2 linked regions of the Homo sapiens genome follow. The protein of the gene in region 1 interacts with the protein of each later gene in a biochemical or structural test. Each region holds a gene or a part of one and is shown on either strand. Other genes may lie near its edges. The genes, in order: DIDO1 and TNKS2.

Region 1 (7,819 bases):
TGCAGACAGCCAAGATCACACTACTGCACTCCAGCCTGGCAACAGGGTGAGACCTTGTCTCAAGGAAAACAACAACACAAACTGCAGCTCATTCTTTCTAAAGGTATCTGGAAAATGACAGAACTGAGAATAACATCCAGATTCAGTTCCCTGCCATGAGAAGTTCCTTTTGCCTTGTTTGTGGATATTGTTGTCAGTTCATTGCAGCTGTCTTGAGTAACTTACAGAGGCTAATGTGACCAAAGAAAGATCCATCATCCCTTGTTGTTTTTCTAGTTAAAAGTCATAGCACAGGTTTCTGGTAACATACAAATGATAAGACACTGTCCATAATTCTAATTACAACAATTCAGTTTGTATAGTAATTTGGTACAGCATTAAAGGGGGTGATGCCCTCCTCCCATCTCATTTCCCTCCCTTTTTCCTATTTCACATTTATTCTTTTGTCTAAAAGACAGAAAATTGGTATGATTCTCATATGCCGCATAGAACGTGTAGCTCCATCACATCCCACAGCTTTCTAGAGGTCTTTGGGGTTGGAACACAAAGTTTAACTTCTGTTTCTGTTTTTCCTTGAATTCTTTTGTTTCCTGGCCCTTTTCCATCTTGCCGGTTCCCCTTATGTTACCCACTATCGTCCATGCTCTCCCTCTGTGTTGGTTGTCTCAAAACAGCATTCAGCGGAATTCATTGAGTGGGTGAATTCTGTGAAGTTGCCTTTTCTGGCAGTGCTGTTACTCAGTGATGCACAAACGTAGCATTTGCCCTTTGGTAGACAAAGATCTGTGTTTTTTTTTTTTTTGTTTGTTTGTTTCTTTGAGACGGAGTCTCGCTGTCACCCAGGCTGGAGTGCAGCGGGTTCAAGCGATTCTCCTACCTTAGCCTCCCGAGTAGCTGGGATTACAGGCGCCTGCCACCACGCCCGGCTAATTTTTGTATTTTTAGTAGAGATGGGGTTTCACCATGTTGGTCAGGCTGGTCTTGAACTCCTAACCTCAGGACCTCAGGCGATCCACCCACCTCGGCCTACCTAAGTGCTGGGAACAGGCTTGAACCACCGCGCCTGGCAGATCTGGTTAGTATTCTTCAAAGGAGCCAAAGGCAGTGCTTTCGTGTTTGCTTTGAGGGGAAGTAGTGGACGATTTGATTGTGACACCTTTTAGCATTGGTGAGTTGATTTATCTAAAATTAACTGTTAAAGTTAGCTGGCCTTATACAACGTAAAAGTAAAGAAAATTCATCAGTTTCTCAAAAAAAAAAAACAAAACAGTGGCTGAAGTTTTTGTTAGCAATAAGAAAACAGTAGGCATATATATATATATATACACTTTTTCTTTTTTCTGGGAATCCACGTTCTCCTCCTGGGTAAAGGAGAGGGTTGTATTTTGTGATTCCTTTTTCCTGCCCCAAGTGGCTGGCGATACAGCCCCCGGCGCGCCGGGCACTGAGGCCCTGGAGCACAGCGTGGGGGGCCTGGCACAGACACGACTCACGACCGGGCCGATCTCCGGCCAGAAAGAACTATGTTCCGGCCGCCCGGGTCGCGGGCCCGCGGTGCATCCCTGCAGGCCTCCATCCTGCCTCGGCAGAGGTCTGCAAGAATCCTGTGGGTGTCCCCCGGAGCGGGCAGAGGAGGAGCCCAGCGCCGAGGCCCAGGCGCGCCCCGCCCTCGCCCCTCCCCGTGCCCCTCCCCCGCTGCTCCCCTCCCAAAGGCCGAGACCTGGACGCTGCCCGGTGGCCTCGGCGGGGGCCCTGTCCTTGGCCGCTGCCTCTCTGAATCCCAGGTGAGAAGAATAAAACGTCCTGACGCTGTCCGGCTTCCGGTTCTTGGAGAGGACGGGCCGTCTCTGCCGAGAGAACTGTGCGGAATCAGGAAGCGCTGGTGCTCCTTCGCTTTCACGGGACTAAGCGAAATCCGGCTTTAAACGAAGTAAAGCCGGCTGCCTCCTGGAGTATTTTTGTCATAGTATTTTTATTTTGGGTCAGGGTATTCTGCTGCGGACCCTGAGTCTTAGGAAGGAGGCTTATAACAGCGGAAAGCCATTTTTTTTTAAGAATTGCTGAGTTTTCCGGATTGTACTTTCAAAGACTTTCCCTGAAACTTTGCGTGGCATGGGGGTTGCAGAAACTGGTGTCTACACATTACAAAAGTGTACTGTTTACACCTATTTGTGATGCACCCATCGTGTTTTTCTCCATGGACCACCTATTAAGCTTCCTGCTGGAGCGCTCTTGGCCCCCTTCCTGCTTTCTGGGCCACATCCTGTTGTAAATCGGTGCTACTTGTGGGGTTTTGTTTGTGAATTGGGGATATTTAAGGAACAATTTATTGAAACAACTGAAGAGTTTGTTTCCTCCTTTGGGTTTTACTTTTAAAATAAATTCGGTTAGGAAAAAGTATTCTTTTGCTAGTGGAGTTCAAATTCAAATACCCAGACTGTAGATTCTCCAAATGCCTTTCTCACCAGGGAGGGCAGCTCCCAGGAATAGTGACGGCAGGTAAGCTGGGATAAAGCTGACTTCGTCACCTTGTAGGTGGGGAAGGCCAGAGTGGATAGTCTGGCCAGGCCTCCACAGCCGAGCCAGCTTCTGCTGGGGGGCGGGGGAGATGAGAACGAGAGGCAGGTTCCAGTATCCTCTGGACTTGCAGGAAGGAAGGCATTCTGCGTATCGCTGAGCACTGCGGTGAGCTGAGTGAGGGTTCCCTTTCCTCATGTTTTCCTGCCTTTTTCTTCCTCTTGGTTCTCTTGTCCCTGAGCCGCCTTGTCCACTCTTTCTATTCCCTTAGTGCCTTTCCATCTATCTCTCCTGAGTGCCCAGCGTGAAACTGTACCCAAGAGTTAAAATCTCTTAAAAATCTCACCGTCTTGCAGAAACAAATTGTGGCTGGTTTAAAGATCCTCAGCTAAAGAGACTGGGCTGAGGTTCCCCCATACCAGTTGGATTTAGAGAGAGCCTCTTGTAGGGAGGCCTCATGTGGTCTTCACCTGGGCCTCAGCATGTGAGCCCTCCTTTAACAGAGAGCTTGCCCAAGATCTCACTGCTTGTTAAAGGTGGTCTCAACCCCGTCTGTCTTCTAAGCTTCCCACTACCCCATGTCTGAGAGCAAAAAGCCCTCTTTGCAACCTGAGATCACACTCAAGATGGAAGACTGTCAAGCCCATCCCTGCCAGATTCTATTAATGTGGTCCTAATGGGCCACACCAGCAAAAACAAGCTGCGTTGTATTCCTTTGAAGAAAACTAAGTCTGCCTCAGAAACTAGCAGACCCTGTAATCTTCAGCGGTATTATTAAAAAGCACACCTGCCTCAAAGCCCCTGGTTCATCCATGGAAGCATCGCAGAAGCCTCTGTATTAGGGGCAGCTTTACGGCACTCTGGGCCCCTTTTACTCTTGGCCAGGGCCAACGCCAAAGGCTAGATGGTCCATGCTTCCAGGTAGCGTATCACTGTTCACAGAAGCAGAAACAAGTAATGGGGCCACCTCCACCCCCCCCAGGTCCCTGCCCTCGGAGCAAGTGGCCAGTGCCCATGGTGCCTCGAGGCAACAGCTGCCCCTCCTGCCCCCTCCCAGTCTCTTTCCTGCAGTATCTGGGGACAGACAGGTGATAGAGTGTCACTCTAGTTACTATTGAGCGAACTGAAGAAAATCCACATGGAAGGTTGACATCTACCATACCTCACTTTCCCCTCTCTTGATAGTAAGTGTCTAATCTTTCCCTCCAACCCCTGTGGGCAAACATGTCCATGCGTTCTTTGAGTTCTAGCTACTGGTCAGTAGTTCTGAGTGTAGGATTGACATGGTGGGAGGAGGCAGAGCTTTGGGACCACACCGCCAAGGTCCCTGGGGCCTAGAGGTCCAGCGTGCCCGCCTCCCTTCCTCGCTGTGCTCCTTTCTCTCCCCCCCACCCCCACGCTCCTGGTTTCTGGAGCCGAGCTTGGGGTGGGGAGGCAGCAGGTAGGGTCTTCAAGTTGGAGAGAAACCCCGCCCACACCTGGACCTCGCCCCTCGCTGCCATTCCCAGCCGAGGCCGTCAGGGGCCTGCGTTTTGAGAAACACAATCTGGAAGAGAAAACCTGGGCCTTTTCTTCTTTTATCCCCTGTCCCCGCCCCCCTACACCTCTTACAAATTTAGCCCAGGAGCTTTCTATCCCCACCGACTTGAAGGGTTTATCGGTCTTAAGAGCGAAATCCTGGCGGAGTGCAGTCCCTCGGGGCTAGCATCCACGTTCCGCCTGCGCCCTGCCCGGGCTGTTCCGAGGGATCCCCGCAAGGGCACTGCCCCAGCTTTCACTCTTGGAGTCGGGGAAATAAGGTGTCCACAAAGGATGCAAGCAAGTCATTGTCAGTGCAGACCCGAAGGGCGCGTCCGGAGTGCAGGTATGAAAGACGGGCGCATGCGCGCAGTCCGGGGCCGGGCTTCGCAGCCCGGGCTCCGCTCTAGCCCCGCAGCGTCTCGGTGGCCGGTCTCGTCCTCCGCCCGCCGCGCGGGGGCGCCGCTCTAGCCCCGCGCCATCTCGGTGGCCGTCCGCCCACTCCGCGGCGTTCGGGGAAATGGCTGCGAGACCCTAGAGGCCTGCGGCCTGCGGTAAGTGGCGTCCCGGGCGCCGGGTAGAAGAGCCGGCCGCCGCTTGGGCCGCCCTCGGGAGCGGGGCGGGGCCGGCATCGGAGCCCGGCTGGCGAGAGCCGCGGATCCCGCACAGGCCGCTCCCGCCGAGAAGATGGCGGCCGCGGAAGGGAAGGAGCGGGCGGGCGGGCGGGCGAGCGGGCGGGGCCGGTCAGAGCCGCCGCGGCCTGGGGCGCGGGCCTCAGACGCCGGCCCTGGTGGGCTGCGTGAGGTCGAGGGGACTGGCGAGCACTCGGTGGTCGCGGCTGGAACGGTTCCGAGGGTGGGAGTCGGGGCGGCCGCTCGCGGGGAAGAGCGCAGGGCTGGCCTGGGCGAGTGCGGCCCGGGGCTCGGGGGCTGCGTAGCTGGCTTGTAAGCGCAGCTGGTTTCCCTAGGCATTCTCGGGGACCTCGGCGCTTCCTCCCGGGCCTTGGGTGCGGTCGGGGTGGCCGGCTTAGCTTCTGGCGTGCCTTCGGGGGATTCCGGCACTGCAGGGGCGGCTGGCGCTGCAGGAAGCGCGAAGAGCCCGGATTCGCTTTTCTGAAGAGTGTGTCCTTACCTCCCCGCGCTGGTTTTCAGTTTTTTTGTGGAATAGTTTGTTGCGTTGGTTTGTACTGGCCGTATTTGTGACACATTTTGCCTTCCAGTGACCCCGGAAGCCGAAAGGGCCCGCTCTTGCGCTCGGCGGGAGGGGTGCTCGTGCTGCCTCCGCTGCGGCGTCCGGGGCTCCTTCTCGCGGTTCTGAGACAGTGGAGGTCAAGGCCGGCTTTTCTGCTCTAAATAAAGGACTTTAATATATAAGTTTAGAGTTTGGGCCACAGGTAGCAGTAGCTTACTGCGTTACCAGTTATTGAAAATACTCTTTAACTTGTGCCTGGGCCTTCGATATCCGTGTCATCTGTCTGCTGATGGAATGAGATTTGAGCCTAGTGTACTCAGGGACTTAGAGGAGGGAAAGGCAGATGGGAACGTCTTTTCGGTATATTCACATAACTTTGCTATATACCCCGTGTTCCATGGTTTCCGTAGGGCCACATATGACTTGGTTGAAATACAGTTCTGAGAAAGGTCCTTAGCAGTGCCTTTTAAGGAGTAAATACAGTCTTTTTTTAAATGAGCATTCATTGCTTACTGTTAGCACGAGGGATACAGCAGTGACCAAGGTGGCCCCTGTCCCAGTCCTGGAGACAAGTTCACTGGGGAACTTGAGAGATTATTCCAGCTCCTTCCTTTAAATCAGGTGTTGCCAACTCGTTTACCTGGAGCCTAGGGCTCTTTAGTGGCCCTTTGGGTTGCTGTTAGTGTATGTGTGTCTGTGACTATTTCACTATTTTAAATACGGCATAGACATCTCAGAAGTGTCACCCAGGAAGACAGACACAGCCCTGTTGTGAAACTCCCTGCTTAATGCACACTTGTTTTCCTACTTGCTGTGTACATGGGGAGGAGATGTCTGTTCTTGTAGACTTGTTTCAGCAAGTTTCATAAGATACCTCTTGTTTTGGAAAAGCGCGTATCTTGAATTTTTTCAGGCTTTCCACCAGAGGCTGTCCCTTATTAGTAGTTGATTGAATTCAGACTATGTCAAGCAGAGCTCATTGTGCTGTGGTGAGAAGACAGGGCACAAATAAGATAATTTGTGATTGACTGCCCAGCCGTACCCATGGTTACCAGACAGCCCAGCCCATGTTGCATGTGCATATGTGAGCCTCGCAAAGGCTTGTCTAGGACGTGCGGATCATCGGTTGGGCCTTGGAGGGTGCTGGGGTTTCTTCATGTAAGGAGGAAATGATTGGAATGGGCATTGGCTCCCGTTTTGTTCGCGGTGAAGTTGGCAGGTTCTGCTGTTGATACTGTGAGTTTTTCTACAGCCTTAGGGTCATAATTCCCTTAAGGTCAGTTCTGTGGAGCCCAGTAGGGTGCTTCTCTTCAGTGTTTATTTTTAAGCTGTGCCACGTCTTCATTGTTTGGAATCTCTGTAAACAAGACACGTTTTTCCTTTTTATATGCCTGTCCCATAATACCAAGTGGCTTATTTGGCTCTTGAAGAGCTAAGATTGAAAGTGTTTAACAGGTGACTCCCTACTATCTGTGGGTCCCTGCACTGTGCCCTTGCCTGAGAGGTCTCATCTCTCTGGCAGGCTCAGAAGACCACTAGAAAATTCTCTCTAAACAGAGTCTCTCACTTACATTTCTTATTTAAATGACGGGGTCCCTTACAGTGGATACTAAGATCAGCCTTTTTATGACTACTATCAAATGATGTGTGTTAATTGCATTACAAAAGTTCTATAATTAACAGTTAATGGAAATGTACTAATTGGGAAAGAGGAGGTCAAAGAACAAAGTCCAGTTTGCTCATTTCATGTACGTGTACACAGTCATCTGTGAGACAGTCTGTGTTGTCTAGGCCTCATTTTATTTTTTGAGTAGTAATTTTGAGGTTAAGTTGTTATATGAAGTTGAATAGGTAATTGTACATATTTTAATAAGAATTCTGTAACCATGTCCATAAAACTTAATAGGCGGTTGTAATCGTGTGTAAGTTGTAAAGGAGGCATTTCTCTCCTTGGGTATCAAATTTTGATGCCGTGGTTTTGTTTTGCGTATGCTGATATAGACATTTAAGTGGTACTTAATATACCTTTATAATAAGGTAAATCAACTTTTTTTCCAAAATGAAGATACCTTAATGTGTTTGATTACAAAAGTAATACACATACAGGAAACTTAAACATTATGTAAAAATAGAAAGTAAAGACACTAGAAAGGGTGCTGTCCAGAAAAGCTCCACGTTACAGCTGTTTTGCACTAGTGAACGGGATGCGTTGGAGGCTGTGGCCACTGCCCTGGCCGGCTTGTCTGCGGCTCTCACTCAGGTGCCAGGGAGTTTTTCTCACGGCTGTGCATGTGATGATTCATCACCCTTAAAGAATTCCCGGCCGGGCATGGTGGGTCGTGCCTGGAATCCCAGCACTTTGGGAGGCCAAGATGGGTGGATCACTTGTCAGGAGTTCAAGACCAGCCTGGCCAATATGGTGAAACCCCATCTCTAACTAAAAATACAAAAATTAGCTGGGTGTGGTGGTACGTGCCTGTAATCCCAGCTACTTGGGAGGCCGAGGTGGGAGAATCGCTTGAACCTGGGAGGTCGAGGTTGCAGTGAGCCGAGACCGCACCACTGCACTCCAGCCTGGGCGACAGTGAGACTC
Region 2 (7,808 bases), on another chromosome or scaffold:
AATAAATAAAAATTCAAATCAAGTATCTTCTAATGCCACCATTATACTCTTCAGTGTATTTGTACAGGACGACCGTACTTGAAGCTATTAGCTGAGTTCGAGTTCACTTTATTACTAGTATGTTACATTCAGTAAGAACAATTGAAGTAGGCTCTGCCAGTCCCCATGTGCTTTGGGAATCATTATTCCAGGTAATCATTTTATTGGTATCACCTTTGGTAAACAAGTTTTGAAAAATATGCCTACTTGAGCCAGCCTTCCTTATAGGAAGCTAAAGCTTTCTATTTTTCCTGATGGTAGCTGCTAAGCACAAGCAGGAAAAAAAAAAAATCTCAAAACTCTCAGAAGTTACATAAGCCTCTCACCAAAGTTATCTGTTGTTTTGGTTTGTGAGAGTTCTCATAACAAAATACCAAAGACCAGGTGGCTTAAACAACAGAAATTTGTTTTCTCACAGTTCTGGAGGCTAGGAGTCCAAGTTCAAGGTGTTGGCAGAGTTGGTTTCTTCTGAAACCCCCTCTTGGCTTGCAGCTGTCTACCTTCTCAGTGTGTCCTCCATTGGAACATGGTGTCTCTTTCTATATGTCCTAGTCTCTACTTTTAAGGAAACCAGTCAAATTAGATTAGAGCCCACCCTAATGGGCTCATTTTAACTTTTTTAGCTCTTTAAAGGCTCTGTCTCCAAATAGAGTCATATTCTAAGGTACTGGGGTTAGGGCTTCAACATAAGAATTTTGCAGGGTACAATTCATTTCGTGACATTTGTTTTAAGGTTTCACTCATAAAACTGGCACAGTGTACCTTTGTTTTCAGTGCAAATATACAATATATTGTGGTTTCAGTACAGCTTTTTCAGCTGCATTACAGATGTTAGGAAATCATTAAAATCACTGAGCTATAGCTAATACCTCAGTGGAGTTCCATCATAGACACAGCGGACTCATACAAGTTTGTCTAAATATACATGATTTAAACATGGTATAAAAAGCAAGAAAAAATAATGCAAAATTTCTGCCATTTCGTGTAATGTGGGAGATGGAAATGTATGATGTTCATTTCAGTCTTGTATTATAACTTGGTGTTATACATGATTTTTACCTTTAAATTCTCACTCCATGTAAGTTGAGACCTCACTGTCCAAAGAAACCAATTACTCTATGTGTCTTTCAAGTATTTTGGAAGTGATAAGCCACAAATGCTAACATGGTGAGAAAAAGCTTTACTTCCACTGGCTATCAGGAGTTTCTAGTCCATGCAAGACAAAATATGACTTGACCTTTGATTGGAAGTTGTGCTGTGCATATTTATGTTAGCTTTTATATCTTTCTTGTAGCCTATCTAGAACACTTAACATTACTGTGTCCAAGTTGTCTTTGTAAGTCACAAATAATTTGTATGCATAAAATATTTCTGTCCACTTCTGCAGCGTTAAATACCATACCTTGAGACCTAGAAAGACTTTTAGATTAATGTAATATTTTATGGTAGTTTTATAATTGTATTCTTCTTTACTTGATCTTTTTAAATTCTTTTGCTTTAAATCCTTTAGCAAAAGGATAAAAACTATAATAGAAATAAGTTTTATTTCATGGCTTTAACAGCACCTAAGTTCCTCTACTAGACTTGCAGAGATGTGTACCTCTGAGTTCTCTCTAGCAAAAAAGCATGCTCTTGTGGCCTTCTGGGGAAGAGGACTCTGAGGCCCACTCTGGTTTGACTTGTATGTGATTGCAGACCTTTGACTTGCAGCCTCTGAGACCCATGTACCTGAGTTCAAGAAGTGGTATGTAACACCCATGAAGGCAGAGACTTTGGTAGGAAGGTTTTCATAGGAAAGATACAAGCAAATCAGTCAATATAATTTTGGGAATCTACAAAGCTAATTGATAACACAAAAAGCTTCCAACTTGAGGCAAGGGGGAAATGTTTTCCAGAAGGTAAATTGTTAATAGAGTCCAATGAGCTATTTCAGATTTATACAAAATCTCTTTTTTTATGTTTTCAGTAATGTCTATGCCTTATAAATACATATATATATGTATACATGTAATGACTTTTTTATGTTAACAAGTGGAAGTATTATGACATAGGACTAAAAAAGAAAAAACAAGTAAAGTAATTTTACTTCTTTTCTAAATTAGCTGGTTATAATAATTTAGAAGTTGCAGAGTATTTGTTACAACACGGAGCTGATGTGAATGCCCAAGACAAAGGAGGACTTATTCCTTTACATAATGCAGCATCTTACGGGGTAAGTTCTTCCGTGTTACCTTTAAAAATTTGTGGAATTTTAAAGTGAAAGTCAGTATTGCAGCTCAAATGGAATGTAGTTTGATGTTCTCATTTTACAGAGAAGTAAGTGGCAGAGCTAAAGAAGTTAAATAACTTCCAAATTTCGGTTCTGAATCTGTTCTAAGCTTGCTGTGTGATATGCGGTGTATTGTTGTTTGTTTTATTATCTGCCTTAACACCTGTCTCTTATTTTCAGTGAGATGTTGGTGATTGTGTTTATTTGTTGGTACCCAGAAAATCCACTGGGGCACCAACGGGGTAGATGGAATCTGTACAGATTCAGATGCATTGTTCCTGACTTATCATAGTCCAATGTGACATTCAAAATTGACCATCTTCAATGGTATAGTTTGAATAATTGAGGAAGATTGCTGCTTTATAAATTGACATTTAGTAGTTATAACATTTGAATAAATTAGAAATTATTGAAGTCATATTAGTCTAGTTTCCTGCTAAATAGAATTCTTAACTCTTTTCTAGATAGTTTCTCAAGTTATTGAAATGTCCACTGTAATTTTTAATCAGCTACTCATAAGTTGTGATGTTGGGGAGAAAGAGTTTTTCTTTTCATTTCCAGAATAAGTTTGAAAATGTGGAAGTAGGTACGTAACTAGTTTCATTTTAAGAAAGTAAAGTGTGACAAAATAATATTTCAGACTGTAACGGGTATTTTCTTTTACAGCATGTAGATGTAGCAGCTCTACTAATAAAGTATAATGCATGTGTCAATGCCACGGACAAATGGGCTTTCACACCTTTGCACGAAGCAGCCCAAAAGGGACGAACACAGCTTTGTGCTTTGTTGCTAGCCCATGGAGCTGACCCGACTCTTAAAAATCAGGAAGGACAAACACCTTTAGATTTAGTTTCAGTAAGTGATGGGCTTTTTGAAAAATCTCAGTGCTTTTCTGACTTGTTAAAATTCACTTGATGTTATTATAAAATGTCTTTATAGTCAATGTGAATGGCAAAATCTGGGTTTTAGCCTGATTTTAATGTAAGAGTTCTTTAGTATTAAAATATAATAGAATTATAAAGTAATATAATTATCCTTCTGTAGAATAGAATTATCAATCAGTTATTATATACTGAGTATTTTGGAAATAGGAAAAAGAAGTACATGATATAACTGCTTACGTTAGTTAGGAAACTAAACAGACCCAGGCCCTCAGAAAATGCTGTTACTTATAGTGCATACAGCGCAGATGGTACAGACCATGGGTCTTACACACGGCCCCAACTGGGAACATTGCCCCCCAAGGTGCAGCCACAAACCCTGCTGCCAGTAGAGATTCCTTTTCCTCCCACACTGCCTCATCCCAGAGTTCTTGTTGCTCACCCTACCTTAACTGTTCATGAAACAAGTCTATTATCCACTTTCCTGTGGAGGTCCTGTTTTCCTTCCCCTCTCTCCAGAGCATGGAGCAGGTGTAGGAGCTTCCACTGAACCTTCCACCTCTGCTTTGGGCACTGAAGCAGATGCCTCTCTTGCCTCTACCACTGAGGACATTGACTAGAGCAGTGGAAAGAAAGGAGGAAGGAATTCTTTTTGAGATGAGAAGGAAGGGGAATCTTTTCTGCAGACTGCTTTCTACTGAGAAAGATTACATTGTTCCACATTACAATAAGAAACTGAGGTAGTTCAGCTGCATTGGTGCTTAAGTAGGTTTTTCTCAGTCAGCTAACAACCCAGCCATATTTACAACATTATCTCTTCAGGGAAATATCTTTCTAGTTCCAAGTTACCTTAAAAGTGAACATTTGGAATTCATTCCACCCATATGTTAGTTGACCAGATACAATTAAGTTACAATGAAGCAAAATGCTGTAGAGAACATACAGGGGCTTTAGAGTCAGACAGACTGGGCCTAGAATTCCAGCTGCACGATTTAAGTTGTACAATCTTATGAACTGCCTAACCTCTAAACCTTAGTTACCTCATCTATAGATAGAGGTAAAATATATCTGGTTAGTATGAGAATTAAATGGGGTAATTTACTTAAAGTCTTTGGCATGGTATCAGGTACATAAAAAGCACTCAATAAATGGTACTATTATTATAAACAAATGTCATTTACAAATTGTGAGTGCAATGGGAATGCATAGACTGGGGGAAGAGAAAGGTGATGACTGGAATAGTCAGAACAAATGACTATGAAACAAGTACTAATTTATTCCTTGCTGAACATTAGTTGAACGTTGTGAAAGAAGAGTACATATTACAAATTAAACAAATTAATGTACCAATAAATGTGAGGACTTTTTTCCATTCTAGCAGATTTTTTTTAATTTTTATTTATTATTATTTTTTTGAGATGGAAGTCTCACTCTGTCACCCAGACTGTAGTGCAGTGGCACAATCTGGGCTCACTGCAACCTCCGCCTCCCAGGTTCAAATGATTCTGCTGCCTCAGCCTCCCGAGTAGCTGGAATTACAGGCATGCGCCACCACACCCAGCTAATAATTTTTGTATTTTCAGTAGAAATGGGGTTTCACCATGTTGGCCAGGCTGACCTCAAGTGATCGACCCACCTCGGCCTCCCAAAGTGCTGGGATTACAGGCATAAGCCACTGCACCTGGCCCCATTCTAGCAGATTTGATTAAAATGATTATCTTTTCTACCCACCTCCTCTCCAAAAAACTTTCAGTTTTAAGGAACAAATACATTGCTGAATATTTTCCAGGAAATACAAACAATTCAGTTTGCTAAAGTTCTGTGTAGGTTGAATTACTTCTTTCAGAGTAACTACAATAGGACTAAAATCTCTTACCTTTTAAAATTGATATTTCTGTAATTCGTTGTGCTTCTCAGTCACAGTATCAGAATTAGGGTTTTGTTCATGCTTTGCCATATTTAAATTATATTTTGACAATATGTGTTTTGGAAGAGATGTTCTCAGTTATGTCTTATATTTTAATAACAGTTTAGCTGGATACAGGTTGAATATCCCTTATCGGAAATGCTTAGAACCAGATGTGTTTTCGGCTTTTGGATATTTTTTTCAGATTTTGAAATATTATACTCAAGCATTATACTTACTGTTGAGCATCCCCGATCCCCAAATCTGAAATCCAAAATGCTCCAATAAACATTTCCTTTGAGCTTCACGTCAACATTTTAAAATTTTCAGATTTGGGATGTTTGACCTGTATTAACCTGTTTGCTTCACTTTTTAAAATGAATAATCCTCCATTGTGATAGTACTGGCACAAATTGCTGGGTTTTCTCATATTTTTAAATATATTTTATTAGGTATAATAGCATTTTAAAACTTGCTTATGGCAGATGTTGTCTCTGACACGTACCCTAGGCGGATGATGTCAGCGCTCTTCTGACAGCAGCCATGCCCCCATCTGCTCTGCCCTCTTGTTACAAGCCTCAAGTGCTCAATGGTGTGAGAAGCCCAGGAGCCACTGCAGATGCTCTCTCTTCAGGTCCATCTAGCCCATCAAGCCTTTCTGCAGCCAGCAGTCTTGACAACTTATCTGGGAGTTTTTCAGAACTGTCTTCAGTAGTTAGTTCAAGTGGAACAGAGGGTGCTTCCAGTTTGGAGAAAAAGGAGGGTGAGACGTTCTACAAAAATAACTTTCTAACTGGTATTGTAGCCCCGTATTTGTCATTTGGGATGCTAAAAAGTCATTTTTAACCTTAAATACAAGGTATTAGTATAAAATTAGTTAACATAGCCTTAAAAAGGTTTAACCTTGTATTACTTTCTTCCTTCCAAGTTGACAGTTGAAGAGTCTTGTGCTACTAACCTACTATTTATTTATTTATTTTTGAGATGGAGTTCTGCTTTTGTCGCCCAGACTGGAGTGCAGTGGCGCGATCTCGGCTCACTGCAACCTCTGCCTCAAGGGTTTAAGCAATGCTCCTGCCTCAGCCTCCCGAGTAGCTGAAATTGCAGGCACCCACCACCATGCCCGGCTAATTTTTGTAGTTTTAGTAGAGATGGGATTTCACCATTTTGGCCAGACTGGTCTTGAACTCCTGACCTCAGGTGATCCACCCGCCTCGGCCTCCCAAAGTGCTGGGATTATAGGCGTGAGCCACCGCCCCCCGCCCTTAATCTGCTCTTTAGATGTAAACCTTTTCTGTTAAAATTCATCCCACCTTATGCAACAGTGTGGAGCTTGTTTTCATAAACTTTTTTGTGAAGTAGCTTACATCCTGAAAGATAGGAAAACTGGTTTTAAAAATATAGATGCAATTAAAAACAAAGTTTAAAATAAAAATGAGAGTACTGAGACTGCCCCATTGATTAGCTTTTTTCTAATGTTGAAATTTTGTAGCTTTCTCTTGTTCAGTATTATATCCTAAGTGGCTATTAATATTATTTTCTTCATATATAGTAACATTACAAGACTTTACTGTTATAGTGATGAAATACATTATTCTGATGTGAAATTCCATTTGTTTTGGATTTTTTTATTTCCCAGTTCCAGGAGTAGATTTTAGCATAACTCAATTCGTAAGGAATCTTGGACTTGAGCACCTAATGGATATATTTGAGAGAGAACAGGTGAGTAGATAAATCATATTGTTTGGATTAGTGTTTTATGGAAACTCAAGGAAAATTTGGAACATACTTGAAATGAGCTGAACCATGTAAGCTATTGGGGGAGAATGTTTTTTAAGAAATGACATCAGTCAGCCTTCTAATTTGGCTTGACCTTGAAACTTCCATTTAGTTTATTCGCACACAGTTGACTCGAGTAGTAATGGTAAAGTAGCTTTCTTGAATGGAAAGTTTAGCTTATTCAGTTCTTGAAGTAAGTTATCCTTGAGCACTGTCTATTCAGTTCTCTCTCAAGCCTGACACTTTTCTAGCTGCTATGGGAAGGTATATGAATATGCCAGCCATATCTGGGCTTTTCTAAGCAGTCTCAGTTTAAAGTACTCTGTCAGAATACATTTACTGATTTTTGTTGTTGTTCAGAAAATAATGTTACTGTAGATTTGCACTCTAAGGGACTTTCATTGTAGTTATGGAATTAGAATAAGAACATATGGCCGGGTGCAGTGGCTCACGCCTGTAATCCCAGCACTTTGGGAGGCCGAGGTGGGTGGATCACTTGAGGTCAGGAGTTCAAGACCAGCCTGGCCAAGATGGTGAAACCCCCGTCTCTACTAAAAATACAAAGAAATTAGCCAGGCATGGTGGCAGGCACCTATAATCCCACCTACTCGGGAGGCTGAGGCAAAGAATTGCTTGAACCCGGGAAGCAGAGGTTGCAGTGAGCCAAGATCACACCACTGCACTCCAGCCTCGGCAACAGAGCAAGACTCGGTCTCAAAAAAAAAAAAAAAAAGAACATATGAAAATTCAAGTTTTAGCATAGATTTTAGAAATTTGTAGAAGGGAGCCAGGCACGGTGGCTCATGCCTGTAATCCCAGCACTTTGGGAGGCTGAGGCGGGTGGATCACCTGAGGTCAGGAGTTCAAGACCAGCCTGGCCAATATAGTGAAACTCTTCCCTACTAAAAATACAAAAAATTAGCTGGGCGTGGTG

Evidence for each region.
Region 2: the proteins of DIDO1 (region 1) and TNKS2 interact in a biophysical measurement, tested with the Homo sapiens proteins (one study listed by IntAct).

What each region holds. Positions count from the first base shown.
Region 1 is NC_000020.11:62,923,202-62,931,020, reverse strand, and holds the start of DIDO1 (death-inducer obliterator 1), read left to right. Parts: upstream 1-4,515; 5' UTR 4,516-4,582; exon of another isoform or gene 4,583-4,589; intron 4,590-7,819. UniProt on the Homo sapiens protein: Putative transcription factor, weakly pro-apoptotic when overexpressed. Tumor suppressor. Required for early embryonic stem cell development.
Region 2 is NC_000010.11:91,842,778-91,850,585, forward strand, and holds part of TNKS2 (poly [ADP-ribose] polymerase tankyrase-2), read left to right. Parts: intron 1-2,141; coding exon 2,142-2,251; intron 2,252-2,974; coding exon 2,975-3,163; intron 3,164-5,605; coding exon 5,606-5,858; intron 5,859-6,734; coding exon 6,735-6,817; intron 6,818-7,808. UniProt on the Homo sapiens protein: Poly-ADP-ribosyltransferase involved in various processes such as Wnt signaling pathway, telomere length and vesicle trafficking.